Regions from separate parts of the Homo sapiens genome. Here region 2 is linked to region 1. The links come from fine-mapping of genetic effects on gene expression. A gene starts in region 1. The other region holds a variant in brackets. All regions are shown on one strand. Distances are from middle to middle.

What was found.
Region 2: its variant is fine-mapped to the expression of CMSS1 in nasal epithelium (TOPMed, PIP 0.91).

What each region holds. Positions count from the first base shown.
Region 1 is chr3:99,814,490-99,822,831 of GRCh38, reverse strand. CMSS1 (cms1 ribosomal small subunit homolog) reads right to left here and starts at 4,970. Exons shown (of 10, transcript NM_032359.4): 1 at 4,789-4,970. The coding sequence starts at 4,852. HP09053 (a long non-coding RNA gene) reads left to right here. Exons shown (of 3, transcript NR_110821.1): 2 at 3,858-3,912; 3 at 4,360-6,200. LOC105374010 (a long non-coding RNA gene) reads right to left here and starts at 4,970. Exons shown (of 5, transcript NR_189163.1): 1 at 4,789-4,970. RefSeq lists enhancers at 4,704-5,013, 4,245-5,119 and a silencer at 4,535-5,289.
Region 2 is chr3:99,781,573-99,789,914 of GRCh38, reverse strand. All of the region lies in intron 2 of COL8A1 (collagen type VIII alpha 1 chain), which reads right to left. Among named protein-coding and RNA genes, the nearest start is that of CMSS1, 32 kb to the left of the region's middle. The variant G/A (reference allele first, on the strand shown) is at 3,556.

The DNA.
Region 1 (8,342 bases):
AACATGTAAAGCAATCAAAACAGCATCTGGCAGGTAGTTAAGTGCTCAACAAATGCAAGCTGGTATTATTACTATTATTATTATTATCATTATTATTTTGAGATGGAGTTTTGTTCTTATTGCCCAGGCTGGAGTGCAGTGGCACGACCTCGGCTCACTGCAACCCCCGCCTCCTGGGTTCAAGCAATTCTCCTGCCTCAGTCTCCTGAGTAGCTGGGATTACAGGTGCGTGCCACCACGCCCAGCTAATTTTTTGTAGTTTTAGTAGAGACAGGGTTTCATCACATTGGCCAGGCTGTTCTCAAACTCCTGACCTCAGGTGATCCACCTGCCTCAGCCTCCCAAAGTGTAGGGACTACAGGCGTGAGCCACTGCGCCTGGCCGCAAGCTGGTATTATTACCTGCAGTCTCCTGGCACTGTACATAGCAGTGTCTTAACACTTCAGTTTTCTAGTTAGGTGCTTGGGAAGAGATGTCATCAAAGATTCAGAATGAGTTGGGGAGGCATATGAAAGACCCTCCTTAAAAGACATGGAGGCTCAATGTTACAGACTGCTAAGAACATGCTCTTTAAAAATAACCTATCTGTATGCCAGTTATTCCTAAATCTGTATCTCAGCCTGGATCTGGCCCTGGGGCTCCAGACTCACATACTTAGCTGCCTACTGGGTACTCGACTTGGTAATTTAATAGGTATGTCATTGAAATAAAAAGGGAAAGCAATTAGTATTCTCTTCATCTTCAGTGAGTAAATGATCAAGTAACATTTTCTTTTTTCTTTTTTTTGAGACAGAGTCTCAGTCTGTAGCACAGGCTGGAGTGCAGTGGTGCGATCTTGGCTCGTCGCAAGCTCCACCTCCTGGGTTCAAGCAATACTCCTGCCTCAGCCTCCTGAGTAGCTGGGACTACAAGTGCCTGCTACCACACCTGGCTAATTTTTGTCTTTTTAGTAGAGACAGGTTTTCTCCATGTTGGCCAGGCTGGTCTCAAACTCCTGGACTCAGGTGATCTGCCCACCTTGGCCTCCCAAAGTGCTGGGATTACAGGCCCTCAAGTGACATTTTCAACTGCAGAATCCCTTGGCTCTCTTCCTTAAGTCACGAAATCCATGCTGTGATTGACATTCTCTCAGTTTTCAGCTTCACACTGAGAAAGTACCCAGACCGGTCAACTACATTAAAATCTCAGGCATTGTGTTTGCTCATTTCAGCATTAATATTTTCACATCATTATTCTACTGAATGTATTACTTACTATAAGTCACTTCAAACAGTTGCTGAAGGTTTACAGGGAATAAGGAAATAAATCAAATATTAGATGCCATTAGATGATTCCTGGGGTCTTATGCCTAAGGCATCCTGGGCTGCACACTCAGCACTGTAACTCCCAGCTGTCTTATGTTGGGCCATGACTCCAATTGCCACCAATGGAGTGACTAGACATCCCTTAAGGACCAGGAGAGTCCCTGCAAAATTCTAATTGCATAGCCTTCCACTCACAAAAGTGTCTAGATTGGATGAGAAATTATATGTCTGCCTACATACTCTGTAGCAGGTAACACGCATACACACATATATTTATTCTGCCAACATCCACCAAACACCAATTAAGTGCCAGGTCCCATGTTGAGCTCCAGTGCAATGTAGAACTCTAGCACAAAAATGACAGGTTTTAAAGAGCCATGAAAACTTTGTTACATACCACATCTAAGAAGACATGATAACAGCCAAAAAATAGTACAGTTCCTTAGACAGACAACAAACAGATAGGCACATTAGATAGATGTTATAAACCATGTACAACCAACAAGTATTTGTAAGTGACTGAAATCTTCCACTGCCTTGCTACCATGGATGTCAAGTGGGAACAGATTATAGCAAAAATGTTTATTTTTATAGGCAGGTAGCATAATCCACAACAGGAATAAAAGCACCAATACAACTATCTTTCCTTTCTCTGATTTAACATATTATTTCTCCTTCAACTTTCAAAACAAAACATAATTCACATACTTTAGGCTGAAACAACAATTGAATACATTTGACATCCCTATCAAATAACTTAAGTAAAGACTTCAAGAAGGCAGCCAGGTAAGTAAGCCTTGTGCTCTAGGATCAAGGCTAGATCCCATCAACAAAAGAAGAATCAGGAAATCTGTGGTTCAGCTGTGATTTCTTTTGAATTAGAAACGCTGTACAGATTACAATTAGGCAAATTGCCAGTGAATAATCAAGGATATTTCAAATAAAGGCATATACTTACTTTGCTTAAGAGCAGCGAACAAAGCAAAGGCCTCTGATAAATTTAATGCCAGCAATTTTCAAAGCTTAGTCTTGGCCGGGTGCGGTGATTCACACCTGTAATCCCAGCACTTTGGGAGGCCAAGGCGAGCAGATCACTTCAGGTCAGGAGCTCAAGACCAGCCTGGCCAACATGGTGAAACCCCATCTCTACTAAAAATACAAAAATTAGCTGGGGGTGGTGGCAGGCTCCTGTAATCCCAACTACTCGGGAGGCTGAGGCAGGAGAATCGCTTGAACCCAGGAGGTGGAGGTTGCAGTGAACTGAGATCGCACCACTGTACTCCAGACTGGGGGACAAGAGTGAGACTTCGTCTCAAAAAAAAAAAAAGGGTTAGTCTTATGGCTAGAAGGAATGTAAGAAGTAGAGCAATCTTAGGCACTCCAACACACTGTCTTCATGAGAATTCTGGCAACTTAGATGAAGGAGGCTGTAGCGATTTAAAGTTTTACTAGATTCAGTGTTTAAAACTGTTGGGGGCCAGGCACGGTGGCTCACGCCTGTAATCCCAGCACTTTGGGAGGCCGAGGTGGGCAGATCACGAGGTCAAGAGATCAAGACCAGCCTGGCCAACATGGTGAAACCCCGTCTCTACTAAAAATACAAAAATTAGCTGGGTGTGGTGGCGGGCACCTGTAATCCCAGTTACTTGGGAGGCTGAGGCAGGAGAATCGCTTGAACCCAGGAGGCAGAGGTTGCAGTGAGCCGAGATCGTGCCACTGCACTCCAGCCTGGGCGACAGAGGGAGACTCCGTGTCAAAAAAAAAAAAAAAGAAAAAAAAAACTGTTGGTTGGTAAAACCCTAAAAAAGATGATCTTTAAGGGCTCTTTACAGATTATGATACAAAGGCCCAGAGAAGTCACAAAGTAGTAGCGGGAAAAGCGTGACTTTCAAAATCAATCACACTTGACTAAACTCTTCCCAGACCTCTTCTTCAATGTGTGTTCCTAAGAACACGACTTAACTTTTTTCTGTTTCTTCACCTATACAAATGAAGAGAATACTTACCTTTTCGGGATGTTATGAAAGTTAAATCAATTCATATTTATGAAGACATTTGTCACATAATAGATACTCAATACATGTTGACTGCCTTTCTTCCAACGGATGAATAACTTGAAAGTCACACAGCTAGTGAGGACTAGAACCAAGAATTGGGATCCCCTTCACCACTCAAACAGAATTCAACTATTTCTTAAATGGCCTCTGTTCATCTTCAATCATATCATAAAATAGAGCTTTTTAACACCTGAGTTGGGAGGGGTAGTTATTAAAGTAAATGTGGAACACCACAGGGCTGCAAAAGAGTCAGGAAGTTTAATCAAGGAAATGTTGTATTGGCTACCTTTCTAAAAATGACATCTGCTTAGTTTGTACCTGAAGGCTTGACCTTCCGGAAACAATGCAACAAATGAAGTTGGTTATTTTTAATGGATATTTCACAACTAGTATTTCAAGATTGTTTGCAGCAAATAGGTATCAAGTGTCTAACATGTGCAGGGCCCTGTGGATGACAGAAGTATGAATCTGACTTTGGCCCTGTCTTCTCTTGTAGAGAAAAGAGGCAGACCTTGAGGAGTGATAAAAACCAACCAACCAATAATTGCATGGTAGGTGTGATGGAACTTAAAAAGTTCAAGGCTAGCCTGACATGGGGGGTCACTTAACGCTACTCTACTTGGGGATGAAATGCCCACTGCATCAGGAGTTGGTAAACACAGCAGAGCATAGTAGAAACTATTCAAATTGTGTTAACTGAATTCTAGTATTGTTTCTGAAAGGAGCTAGCTTTGTGAACTTGTCAAGTTACTTGACATCTTTAGGTTATGTTTCTCATCTGTAAAATAAGTGAGTTCAAAGGATGATCTCTATTTAAGCCTCCTTCCAGTTCTACTATTCCAAATTCCATGATAATGATGATGACCACAAGAAATACAGTAACTTATATTTACCACACATTATATGTCAAGCACTATGCTAAAGTGCATTACTGTACTAACTTCACTTAATCTTCACAACTTTACGAAATGGACATTATTGTTATCATTATTTTACAGATGAGGAAAAGGAGGCTAAACAGTATCAGAATACTGGAGTCGTGATTTGAATGGAGGGAGTCTGAAGCAGCAACCCCTGCTTCTGACCTCAGTCTGAATTGAAAGCAGTTCATGGGTCACCCTTAACCATCATACAAAGTTGCCTCTCTTCACAAAAACTGTCTTATCCATTCTCAAGAAATAAGGAAAAGAGAAAGCTTGTGGAAAGGATCCTTCCTGGCTGGCAGACAGATCTGAGTTAATGTCACAGCTGTCTGTTTCACGTGTTAAAGAATCTCTTGCACCATTTTCCCCGAGATGCTTGCGCGCTCCCAAGGCGGTGCACACCCCTGCTGGGCAAACACCGCGATCGCCAGAAGCGACCAGGGCTGAGGCGCACGGAAGGGCTCCGGGAGAGGCCCCGTAGGAGCGCGGGCACAGAGTGGGTACCTGGGCTGCTGCCTGCTCCAGTCGGCTGGTTCTCCCACCACTCGTCTCCGAGATCGTCTGCCATTTCAGCTCAGGTCTCGACGTGGGCAGAACATCACGGGTAGGCGACCAGCTGCGGAGAATCACGTTGTCTCAAAGCCAGGCGGCCGGCGTAGCTACACGCGGAGCTCCCGCTAGACACTGTCGCCTCCGCCCCGCGGCGATGACGTCACACCTCTGCCCCGCCTCTCCGGCAGCCGCTCCCAGACTCGTCGCAGTTTCCACACAGGCGCCGACAGGCAGAAGCAGTTTGGAAACGCAACATAAATCCCCCCAAAGCTTAAAGACAAAAAGGAACATAAGACGAAAGGGATTGTCATCGTTTTTGATAATGCATTTTAAAAAATTTTGTTTACGTGTTACGTTTCCCGATAAGATTGTGTCGAAAGTGTGAGACACCATGTGAAGACGATTTTTCTCCGCTCAGTTTCAAAGAACTTGCGCAGCGGGAGAAGACCCAAACATGTGCGTGTGTTTTCGCTTGTGCGTCAGTGTTTCAGAGTTTATGTGTTTGTACAGTTTGCTCTTAGAAAACATGCGCAAGGATCCATGACCATGAATGTCGGGCCTTTGTGGTAAATGTAGTTCTGCTATTTATGCAATATGAGTAAAGAAAATGTAATTGGCCTGGAAAGGCTCGCCCACAGAAAGACGCAAGTGGCTCGAAGACCCGCAAGTTGTTTTCCTCATACTCCCTCGGTTGTGTGTCCCACCCCCTATTTGGGAAACGAAGTAATAAGGGAGTCCATTGCTTCGTAACTATAGGTAAGAGACCCGCAGTGCCTCTTGTCTCAGTCCCAACGTGATTTGGCAGGGAGGGACTAGGAAAACCCGCTGGGCGCCAAGTGCTGGGGCTAGCTGTGAAGTAATTGTGGACGGTATTTTTCAGGACATCAAACACAGACGTAAAAATTATACAAAATGTAGTAAAAGCACGCAACGTGCCTGGTACTATGCATGGAATAGTAAGATGAGTCCATTCAGATGTTAGCCTACAGTAGTGGAAATTCAATTTGTAGGAATAAAGGGCTAGACTTCTAATAGGATACATCCTCGGAAATGACAAGACAGGGAAACTTAATCTGATGAGGCTAGGATTAGCCATATGTGGAAAATTACCCCGTGTGCACCCAACTCATAGATGTTTTATAAATGCATTACTGCCTAGACTTTGTCCGCACACTCTAAATGCCCCAAAAGGGAAGATATTATGTATAAATATGGCAAATGTAAAATAATCTATAAAGATCAAAAGTAATATGGCTTTTGTGAAGAAATGTAGATGACGAGATTTTCGTGATTAATAGATTTTTGAAAAAGATAAGAAATGCCAGTGTGGAAGAGGAGTTGCTATGGCTAATAAACATGAAAAGAATTCAGTCTGATTATTAATCTGGGAAATACAAAAAAAACACCACAGCGAGACCGTTTTTCAGGCAATAAATCACAAAATTAAGAAGTATGGGCCGGGCGCGGTGGCTCAAGCCTGTAATCCCAACGCTTTGGGAGGCCGAGGTGGGTGAATCACCTGAGGTCAAGAATTCCAGACCAGCCTGGCCAAAATGGCGAAACCCATCTCTACTAAAAATACAAAAATTAGCCGGGCATGGTGGCAGGCGCCTGTAATTCCAGCTACTTGAGAGTCTGAGGTAGGCGAATTGCTTAAACCCGGGAAGTGGAGGTTGCGGTGAGCCGAGATGGTGCCATTACACTCCAGCCTGGTTGACAAAAGCGAAACTCGGTCTCAAAAAAAAAAAAAAAAAAAAAAAAAAGAAGTCTGGCAATACTAAATTATGGAGTGTCTATGCATTAATGGGAATTGATACCTGTTTTGTACCATGAACTATGAATGGTCTTACATTATATTCCACCTCGCCTCAGCCTCCCGAGTAGCTGGGACTACAGGCACATGCCACCATTCTTGGTTATTTTGTTGTTGTTTTTGTTTTTTGTAGATATGGCGTCTCATTTTGCTGCCCAGGCTGGTCTTTAACACCTGGCTTCAAGCAGTCCTCCCACTCCAGCCTGCCAAAGTGTTGGTATTAGAGGCCTAAGCCACTGTGTCCAGCCATTTTTTACATTTTTAAAGCATTGTAAGAAACAGAACAAAACAACAACGACAACAACAAAAACGTAAAGAAAAATATGCAGCAGAGACTGTAGCCCTCATATATTTACTATTTATTACTATTCCCTCATATATTTGCTCTAACTTTACAGAAAAAAGTTTACTGACCCCAGATTATATTGAATAGCCAACCTAAGTTGTAGCATCCATTTCTGTTCTGTTTGTTCTGTTATTAGTGAATTGGTTATTAGTGAATAGGCATCCTGGTTTATAAATCAGTGTATTGTAAAACCGTACTCTCCAGTATCTGATCATATCATCTAACACAGGGAAGCTCAGGCTGAAATAACTATTAGGTCTTTTTCTGCTCCCTCTTACTGTTCAGTATCTGAATGAGTATTATTAGAGTTTAAAGGAGGAAGCATTCATTTCCCAATGGGGCGAACTGGGAGGTAGCACTTGACAATGGATGTCTGTCGGCAAAAATGGATAGGGTAAATGATAGTTCCTTGGCAGAAAGATTGCAATGTTGCTTTGAATAAGTTATTAAACTTTGCTGGGCATTTCTTTGTGAGTCTGTAAAATAAAGGGGAGCAATTTCATGATTCCTGTGGTCTCTTCCAACTCCATGCCTTAATCTTGAGTATCAGACCAAGAATTCTGGATTTTTGTCGTTGTTATTAGAGGCAAAGGACATGATGGAAGTATTGTTTTAGGAAAGCTAAATTGGTATTACTGTGCAGGATGAATAATGGATTTGAGCAGAGCTTCCCACCTGGCATGGGTGGGCTGAAGACTGACCCCTGCAGTCTTTGGAGGAAGCAGTGACCTTGGGGCAGTTGCCTCAGGTTGAGGGTATCATCATCTTTTCACTCTAGTGTTGTACAGATATTACCATTTTCTATGGATGCCATGATGTGAAAGGTTGGCAAAAACTGAATTAGTAAGAGAGCGATAAAGTTTGAAGGCTGTTTCGTGAATGCTCACCACACAATGAAAAGGTCTTAATCAGTGCAGAGGTTCTTAGTCAATAAGCCCAGCCTATAAGTGTACTTCAGGAACCATCATAATGCATTCAAACTTTTGCATCATGTAGACAATAATGGTAGTAACAATATCAACAATAGCATGTTGTATGTACCTCTCTATGCCTCTTATATCTTAATTCATTTAATCATAACTCCATGAGATACTGTGCTGGGACTAGGGTGAGGCAAGCAGAGACCTAGGATACCAGATTTAAGGAGGCAGTCACTCTCAGGCTGACACTGACACCGACCTGAGAATGCTTGTCTCACTTGAGTCCTGACGCTGGTCCCTTTACTGAAGGCCACAGCTCTAGTTCAGCAGCTCTCCTCAATTCTTTCTTCTGAGTCTAGTAACTTGCCTTTGTCTCTTCAGACTTAGGAGTGGTAACTGCTCCCCACCATTACTAGTCCTGGGGTTC
Region 2 (8,342 bases), 33 kb after region 1:
AATATTTTAAAAATCACTATCATAATTATGCACCTTTATTTCTTGTATTAAAATACTATGAATTCATTAGTTTAGAAATTGGTTAATTGGACCATTAAAGTCTATCTTTGTCCTTTTGTGAAAGAAAGTTTACAAAGCAAGAGTTGTATGAATAAGAGGGAGATGTTTAACTATTAATAAGAATACGCTGCTTCTAAGCCCATTAATAGCACTCTTTACAAATTAGCAGTAAACAGAATTAATATAAATGGGGCTTATCTGTTTATAAAAACCAGCTTGAAAAGACCTCTGTTTGGAAACGCCCTAGGCTTAAAACCAGACAGCCCAGAGAAGTGCATTGTTGGCAAATGCACACTAGAGGGCAAGTGTGATACACACTTAGGTCTGTTCAATATTCTGCCTGCCCACTCCCTGCCCTCTGTAGTTCTAATGCTGGGCATACACGAACTCCATGCTCACAATGTATAAAGGGACTTAATGAAAATTTGAATCTTAAGGGACATGTCATCATAATGCTGGAGAGAGAGAGAGAGAAGTGGCAAATTTCTCACAATTTTTAATGTAAGTATCTTCTGGAAAACTTTGAAGAAACTTCTGTCTGTAAATAATTCAATTTCCATCTTCTTGAGAGTTGTTTTCTTTGCTTTTGCCTTACTTAATTCTGGATCATAGTTTTCTACTTCTTAGAAAATGTGCGTTGATTTTGCAATATCCTATTCCAGGGTAATGCCAAGAGTGTATACAGGCTACAAAAGGATTGGTTAATAAAACACCTAATAAAATATTTAAAATGAATCCCTATCACAAAATTCAAGCTTTACAATCTTTCTAAATACACTAACAAATCATTTTTTCCCTGGAAAAAATGAAGAAACAGTTGCTAGGCCCATTTTGGATTACTAAGATGAATATAATATGGCTGGTGGGCCTTACCATCAAGGAGTTTGTACTCTTAGTGGGGGTGACAGATGTGTAAACTGTTATTGAGTAGCAAAGGATATCTAGTAAAAAGTAAATTTTCCTCCTACTTCTGTTCTCCAGTATCTAAAATCCCTTATGTTTGAAGCAACAATTTTTCCTCATATTTTTCAGATAGTCTGTGGATATGCACATATCATATACATCCCTTTCAAACATAAATTGCAGTATACTATACACACTTCTATTTTTTGCTTTTTTCACTCAAAGATCAGTACTTATTCCTTGTCTAGTTATGTGCATCTAAACAAATTTCTTTAAGTTCTTCATTTATTAAAATATGACTTGGATGTTCCCTTAAGTCTTTTCTAGCTCTAACATTCAATGTCTGTAAGACAGTTACTAGAGATCTGAAAGTGTTAATCCATACCAGAAATGTGTGGTAATATCTGGTAATGTATAAGCTGGTACTTAATTCTACTTTTGGGGATGAATGAATTTAATTATGGAACCCCAGACTTGTGGTGAAGTCTTTAATAATAAGCTAGCATGTTTGGCCCTTCAGCCTTCCATCAATTCAGTGGATATGTTGGATTATACTTCATAATCTTTAAACCAGGACAATCTAATGAAATACTGGAAAACTGGAAGGAGATGAAATGCCTGGAAGAATACCAGTTGAATTATTTCCTCTCATAGGCTCAGCATATCTGTCCTGTAAACCAGCTCTTTAGGTCTGCCTTCTGCCATTTCTCTGGCTCTTTATCTAAATAAACTTTGTTCAGTTTTAACGTGAATATTTATATAAGGGCCCTGGTTAGAATTTACTGCTTTACTTATTCCTACTAATTTTTCTCCTGTCCCTGAGGATATTTTTGGTGGTCAAAGTGGTATGGGGGTTCTCCCAAATCACTCAAAAGAACATCAAATTTGGGTAACTTTATACAAACACCTGGCAAGAAAGAAGGAGCCTTGGAATTTTTGCTGGGAAGAAATTGTGATAGTGGGTTTTCATGCCTCTCTTTCTGAGAATGTGGGACACAATAATATTGTGAGTTCTCCTTAATATTTTCTTTGATTTCTATTTGTTTGACAGCTGGTGTGTGTGTGTGTGGGTGTGGGTGTGTGTGTGTGTGTGTATTTGTGTTCTTGAACATAAGCATATCTAATGTGTGTGAACATTGAATCTTTGCCAGCCAGGCTGGCTTAGTGATGGGTGTCATGTCATATGACAAAAGCACTGTCAAAGAAGTCAAAAGACTTTTATTTAAGTTTTGGCTCTGCCATTCTTCATGCCTATGACCTTGGACAAGTCCTTTATCTTCACTAAGCCTCAGTTTTCTTACCTGTAAAATAGCAATTATAATCTCTGCCCATCCCTCAGAGCTGTTCAGGGGTACAAATGATAATATGAATTCTTCATAAGCCAAAAAGGACTATTCAGATTTAAGTTATTATTAATGGAGTGTGACCAGAAAGACAAATCAAAACCAACTAAAATGTCAAAGATTTTCAAAGAAAGATACTAGCAAAGTAAATGTGAGGTTAACTGCAATAATGATAACCTAACATGAATAAAACAGTAATGGCCATTAAAATGCACTTGTTAAAAATGATTTAGAAAAAGAACAGCTGAACCAAGGCAGTCATTCATTCATGTGTCAAGAATAACCAATCCTAGATACTTTGAACAGCCCTAAATGGCTTCCTATATTTGAGCAGGGCTGCAGAGAATTTCAGATTCCTCATATGACCTGTAATGTACATAACAGAGTAATGTGATACATATATTAACAGAATAATGTGATAGATATTTTAAATGCTCATCAGCATTCTATTTGTACGTTTATCCTCATTGGCTTACTATACAGAAGAATGTTTAAATATTTAATCTGTTGGTCCTTGCCTTGAATCCAACTTTCCCTTTCACATAGGCTAACACAGCATGTCTTTGTGTATGTATGTGTGTCTCTGTTGTGTGTGGTGTGTATAAGCCTCTCTAATCAGTTCCTGGGCTGGTCCTCTGTGCCTCCTACTTGTACAAGATTTGTAGTCTCTCAAGACCCTCAGATTTGCCACCCTAAAGCAAGGGAAAGTCAGGCAGAATCCTCTTCCAGTGTTCACCAGAATTGCCTTCCTGGTTTTTCCATGCCTCTCAAAGAAAATTCTCTCTTGATTGCATTTCTCAGGGCAATTCATTCATTAGATATACCTATTGAACACCTATTGAACACTCAGAACAGGAAATGTTCTGAGTATTGGAGATACAGTGGTGAATTAGAGAGTGGAGGTATTATCTTATTGAACTCACAGTCTAGTGTGGAGAGACAGGTGATAAATGTTAAAAATACATTTTATAATTTGAGATTTGAGTGCTTTGAAAAAGCAATGCAGGTGTCTTAGTCATTAGGGCTGCTGTAGCAAAATACCATAGGTTGAGTGGTTTATAAAGAACAGCAATTTCTCAGTGTTCATGAGGCTGGGAAGTTCAAGATCAAGGTGCCAGCAGATTGGTTGTCTAGTGAAGACCCACTTTCTGGTTCATAGATGACACCATTTTGCTGTATCCTTACATGATAAAAGGGGCAAGGGAGCTCTCTGGAGTCTCTTTTATATGAGCACTAATTCTGTTCATGA[G/A]GACTTTGCACTCATGATCTAATTATCTCCCATAGGCCCCACCTCCTAATACCATCACTTTCGGAGGGGGGTGTCATATTTTAACATATGAATTTGGGGACATAAACATTCAATGTATAGCAGCAGGATAAAGGGTTCAATAATGACAGAGTGGAAGAGCTCCGATGTTTTGGAAAGAACGGTAGGGAATGACATCTGAGGAAGTAAATTTTGGATAGAGATGTGAAGGTTGAGAGATGTATCTTTCTTAAGACAACGTATGGGGAAAAAAGGAAAGAGTCCTGTTTACTACAATGTTAGTTGAAGGTACCTTTCACTAATATAGACTCATTTCAAAAGTATGTTCTTCATCCATGCCTGACCTCATTTTGAATTCTTTATTTACGATATTCTTTTTTCCTGGAAGATAATTATTTTCCTTTTATTTCTCTGTAGATTTCAGTCCTACCATATAGTTTTCTCTGGTTGTCATAACAAAGTATCTCAGACTGGGTGGCTCAATAGAAATTAATTTTCTCACAGTTCTAGAGACATTGAAGTTCAAGATCAAGATATTGGCAGAGTTGGATTCTGCTGGAGCCTCTCGCCTTGGCTTGTAGATGGCAGTCACCTCCCTGCGTCTTCACACAGTCTTTCTTCCATGTGTCTGTGTCCTAATTGCCTCTTCTTATTTACCAGCCACACTGGTCACCCTAGTGACCTCATTTTAACTTAATTTCCTCTTTAAAGGCCCTATTTTCAAATATGCTTAAATTCTGAGGTACTTGAGGTTCAACATATGCATTCTGGGGGATGCAACTCAGCCCATAACACCTTCTTTCCTCCAGACCAGTTCTATTCCTGCCTCCTCTGTGAAGCCTTCCCCACCTTCTCCATCATTGTTATTCTCCTAAAGTTTAATACAAAGTCAAATGTAATTGTAACCAAGCTTATGTTTTTTTCTTGTTGTTTTTTGTCCATTAGACTAAACATGATTGTAAGCTTTCTGAGGACAAGAATAATTTGACTTCTCAATATTTACTGATGGATCCTCATCATCAAAAGTCTTAGTGTGTTGATAGGGGCTTTCAAAAATACCTAATTCAGCTTCACTCCCCATTGAAAATTCTACCTACAGAGGTTGTTGACAGAAAGCCCTCATATTTTTGACTTGGATATTAATAATGATGGGAACATTTAAAAAGCAGCTCAGTATTTTGTACAATTTTGTTGCTTTTTAAATTATCTAAACAACTTTTAGAGAGACTTACCTTTCTTGATTCACATATGGAGGTGCACATGCAGTTTACTATTAGTGGTGGAGGAAGGGAGGGCATGTTGAGAAAATGAATCCCAAAACTTGGTCATAACATAAAAGATGGGCACATGACCTTTTATTGTTGTGCTAAGATCATTTTAAATAAGCCCACCTTAGGGTCATCTGATCAAGGATATGTACCTTTGTTGCAAAATTGATTAGTATTAAGAGATATTAATGACTCTAACTATATTGATCTATGACCCTCAGGTAAGTAACTCAGCATTATCTCAACATTGTTTTTTATTTACTGGAAAAAAGTCCCAGGTACTATGTAGTCATGAGGTGCATAATGATGCTTCAGTCAGCAAAGGACCATATTTATACTAGTGGTCCCATGAGAATATAATGGAGCTGAAAAATTCCTGTCACCTAGTGAGGTCTTAGCCATCATAATGACTGTGGTGCAATGCATTATCTTTTCTATGTTTAGATATATTTAGATACACAAATACTTACCATTGTGTTACAGTTGCCTACAGCACTCAGTACAGTAACATGCTGTATAAGTTTGTAGCTTAGGATTAATAGGCTATGCCATGTAGCCAAGGTGTGTAGCAAGTGGTACCATCTAGGTTTGTGTAAGTACACTCCATGATGTTTGTACAATGACAAAATCAGTTAATGGTGCATCTCTCAGAACATATTCCTGTTGTTAAATGACACATAACTATACTTCAAATACTTTATATCATTAATCCCATATCCATTTCTTAGGTCTTTTTTGACATTACAGTTTCTAATTGATAATATCCCCATCCTATATTTATATGATTGATTATTTTACTGAAATTCAAGACTGTATACAGTTATTCCTGTTACATTCCTAGTCAAAAATTGAAAATTGTTATTTAATTATGTGTAGGAGCTGCCATCCAATATATTAGCTAACAAAGTTCCAGCTTTGTTTTACAAGGTACAGATCCATCTAACTGTACAGTCAGTTTTCTCCATCTTGTCTTCCAAATATCAAGGCCCTCCTTTTGCATGAAATAAGGAATTCTTCTCTTACATAAGACAAGCTCTTAGACAGGCTTTCTTACTCTTTGGTTTTCTGACTAGGAATACAAGCTTAAAGTATTCATTAAGTCACAAAGCCACTGGCAAGGTAAATATGCTGAGATGGAGCCTGATATAGTTTGGCTCTGTGGCCCCACCGAAATCTCATCTCAAATTGTAATCCCCATATGTCAAGGGAGGGACCTAGAGAGAGGTGATTGGATCATGGGAGTGGATTACCCTGTGCTATTCTCATGATAGTGAGTTCTCATGAGATCTGATGGTTTAAAAGTGTTTGGCAGATCCCCCCAAACCCCGCACCTTGCGCGCACGTGCTCTCTCTCTCCTGCTACCTTGTGAAGAAAGTTCTTGCTTCTCCTTCTCCTTCCATCATGATTATAAGTTTCTTGAGGCCTCCCCAGCCATGTGGAACTGTGAGTCAATTAAACCTCCTTTCTTTATAAATTACCCAGTCTCAGGTAGTTCTTTATAGCAGTGTGAAAATGGACTAATAGCCCAAATAAATAAGCCTGTCAGATTCTGGTCAATCAATCACATGGAGGCAGTGGGCAAGACCATCCAATGAACATTTACTGGTTTTGGTCAATCTGCTCATTTACATCTACTGGGATGGCTATAAATGTAAAACAGCCTAAATTATATGCTTCACTAACAAATTCTGAATTCTGTAATTAAGAGCAGCCAATCATCCCCATGTACTAGCTATAGGCAGATAATGACCTCATGGGACCAACGAAACTTGAGAAGTCAATTAGGTTGTGCCCCCAGCGCTAGAAATGAACCACACACATAATGCCTCTGAAATGAGTGGCCAACCACCACATTCCAAAGGTTCTCCAGAGGAGATTTTACAACATTCCCTAGTAACCAATTGTAGGATTTCACATTAGATTTCCTAATATCTAATCCGAATCTCTTCTGCCGAACTGTAAGTTCATTGCCTTTTTTCCACTCTCAAAGGAGTTGGGAAACATCTGGAGAATATTTTTCTTAAAATAATAGCTCACGTATTTGAAGTTTGCAATTAATTTTTTTTTTGTTTCTCTAACTGGAATAGTGTCAGCTGCTAAACAGTTTATAAAACACTTGGGAAAACCCCTAAAAAGAAATTCTAAAGTAGAATATATATTTTTTCTTTCCTTAATATGAAAGCATCATTGCTTTCAGAGCAGAAAATACCTAAGTTTTAGTTCGGACCCAAGTAAGTCACCTATTCTGACTAGGCATTAGTTCCCTCATTTGCAGAATGAGAACATTAGCTATATGACTTTGAGGTCCCTTCTACTTCTAAAGTTTTTTGTAATTGTGAATGTGAAGAACATATCCACACTTATAAATAAATAATGTCAGGGGCCGGGTGCGGTGGCTCACGCTGGTAATCCTAGCACTTTGAGAGGCTGAGGCGGGCGGATCACCTGAGGTCAGGTGTTCGAGACCAGCCAGGCCAACATGGCAAAACCCTGTCTCTACTAAAAATACAAAAATTAGCCGGGCATGGTGGCACATGCCTGTAATCCCAGCTATTCGGGAGGCTGAGGCAGGAGAATTGCTTGAACCCAGGAGGTGGAGGTTGCAGTGAGCTGAGATGATGCCACTGCACTCCATCCTGGGCAACAGAGCGAGACTCCATCTCAAACATAAATAAATAAATAATAATAATAATTTTAGGAACTTAGGTACTCAAGCCTTTGTATGTCAGAAAGTTAGATCAATCTCATACTTGCAGTTACTTTTCAATATTGCACTCTCCCTTCTTACAGTTGGCGATGGAATAATGATGGAGAGTTTGTACACCCCCTACCCCCCTTAAATATTCCTCTGGTCAAATAAGCTATACTTGTCCAGAAACCAAAGGAAGAAATAAGAAACGTGGTTTAGGGACAATAATGATAATAATCCATGGTTTTTTTTTCTTACCACATTCAAAGGTTGAATACAAATGTGAAGCTTACTGAGAAACCTTTAAAAAGTGGCTATAAAAGATAAAAACTTCATACAATGTGTGTGCTCAAAAATTCCTGCAGTCATTCAGCAAATATTGATGTAGGTTTCCAGTCATAAGAATGACAAGTACAAAGTATGCACATTGGAAAGGGGAAATTCGTGGTTAATGAGTGTGACATAGTCATGTTTTAGGAACAACAACAATTTTGTAAGAAAAATGGAAGATCTAAAATCCAGAGGCAGCTCTACAGTAAAGTAGGGCATTGGTAGGGCTCTGCAAGAATAAGGTCCTTGCCATTCCGTGGACCTGGCGATACACAGCAAGGTGAGTTCCTTCTTAGTATGGCTCTAGAAGGACTGCAGAACACTGTTACTTACATGAACAGCTTTCTGTTCATGTGCTAGTACATGCACTAGTACAGTTTGTGTAGCCAACACAATGTAAAATAAGTGTTTTAAGGCCTTTTGCAAGGGAGAGATGTGGGGAAATTTCATCTAATGTAATCCATTAAAGTGGACATCGTAA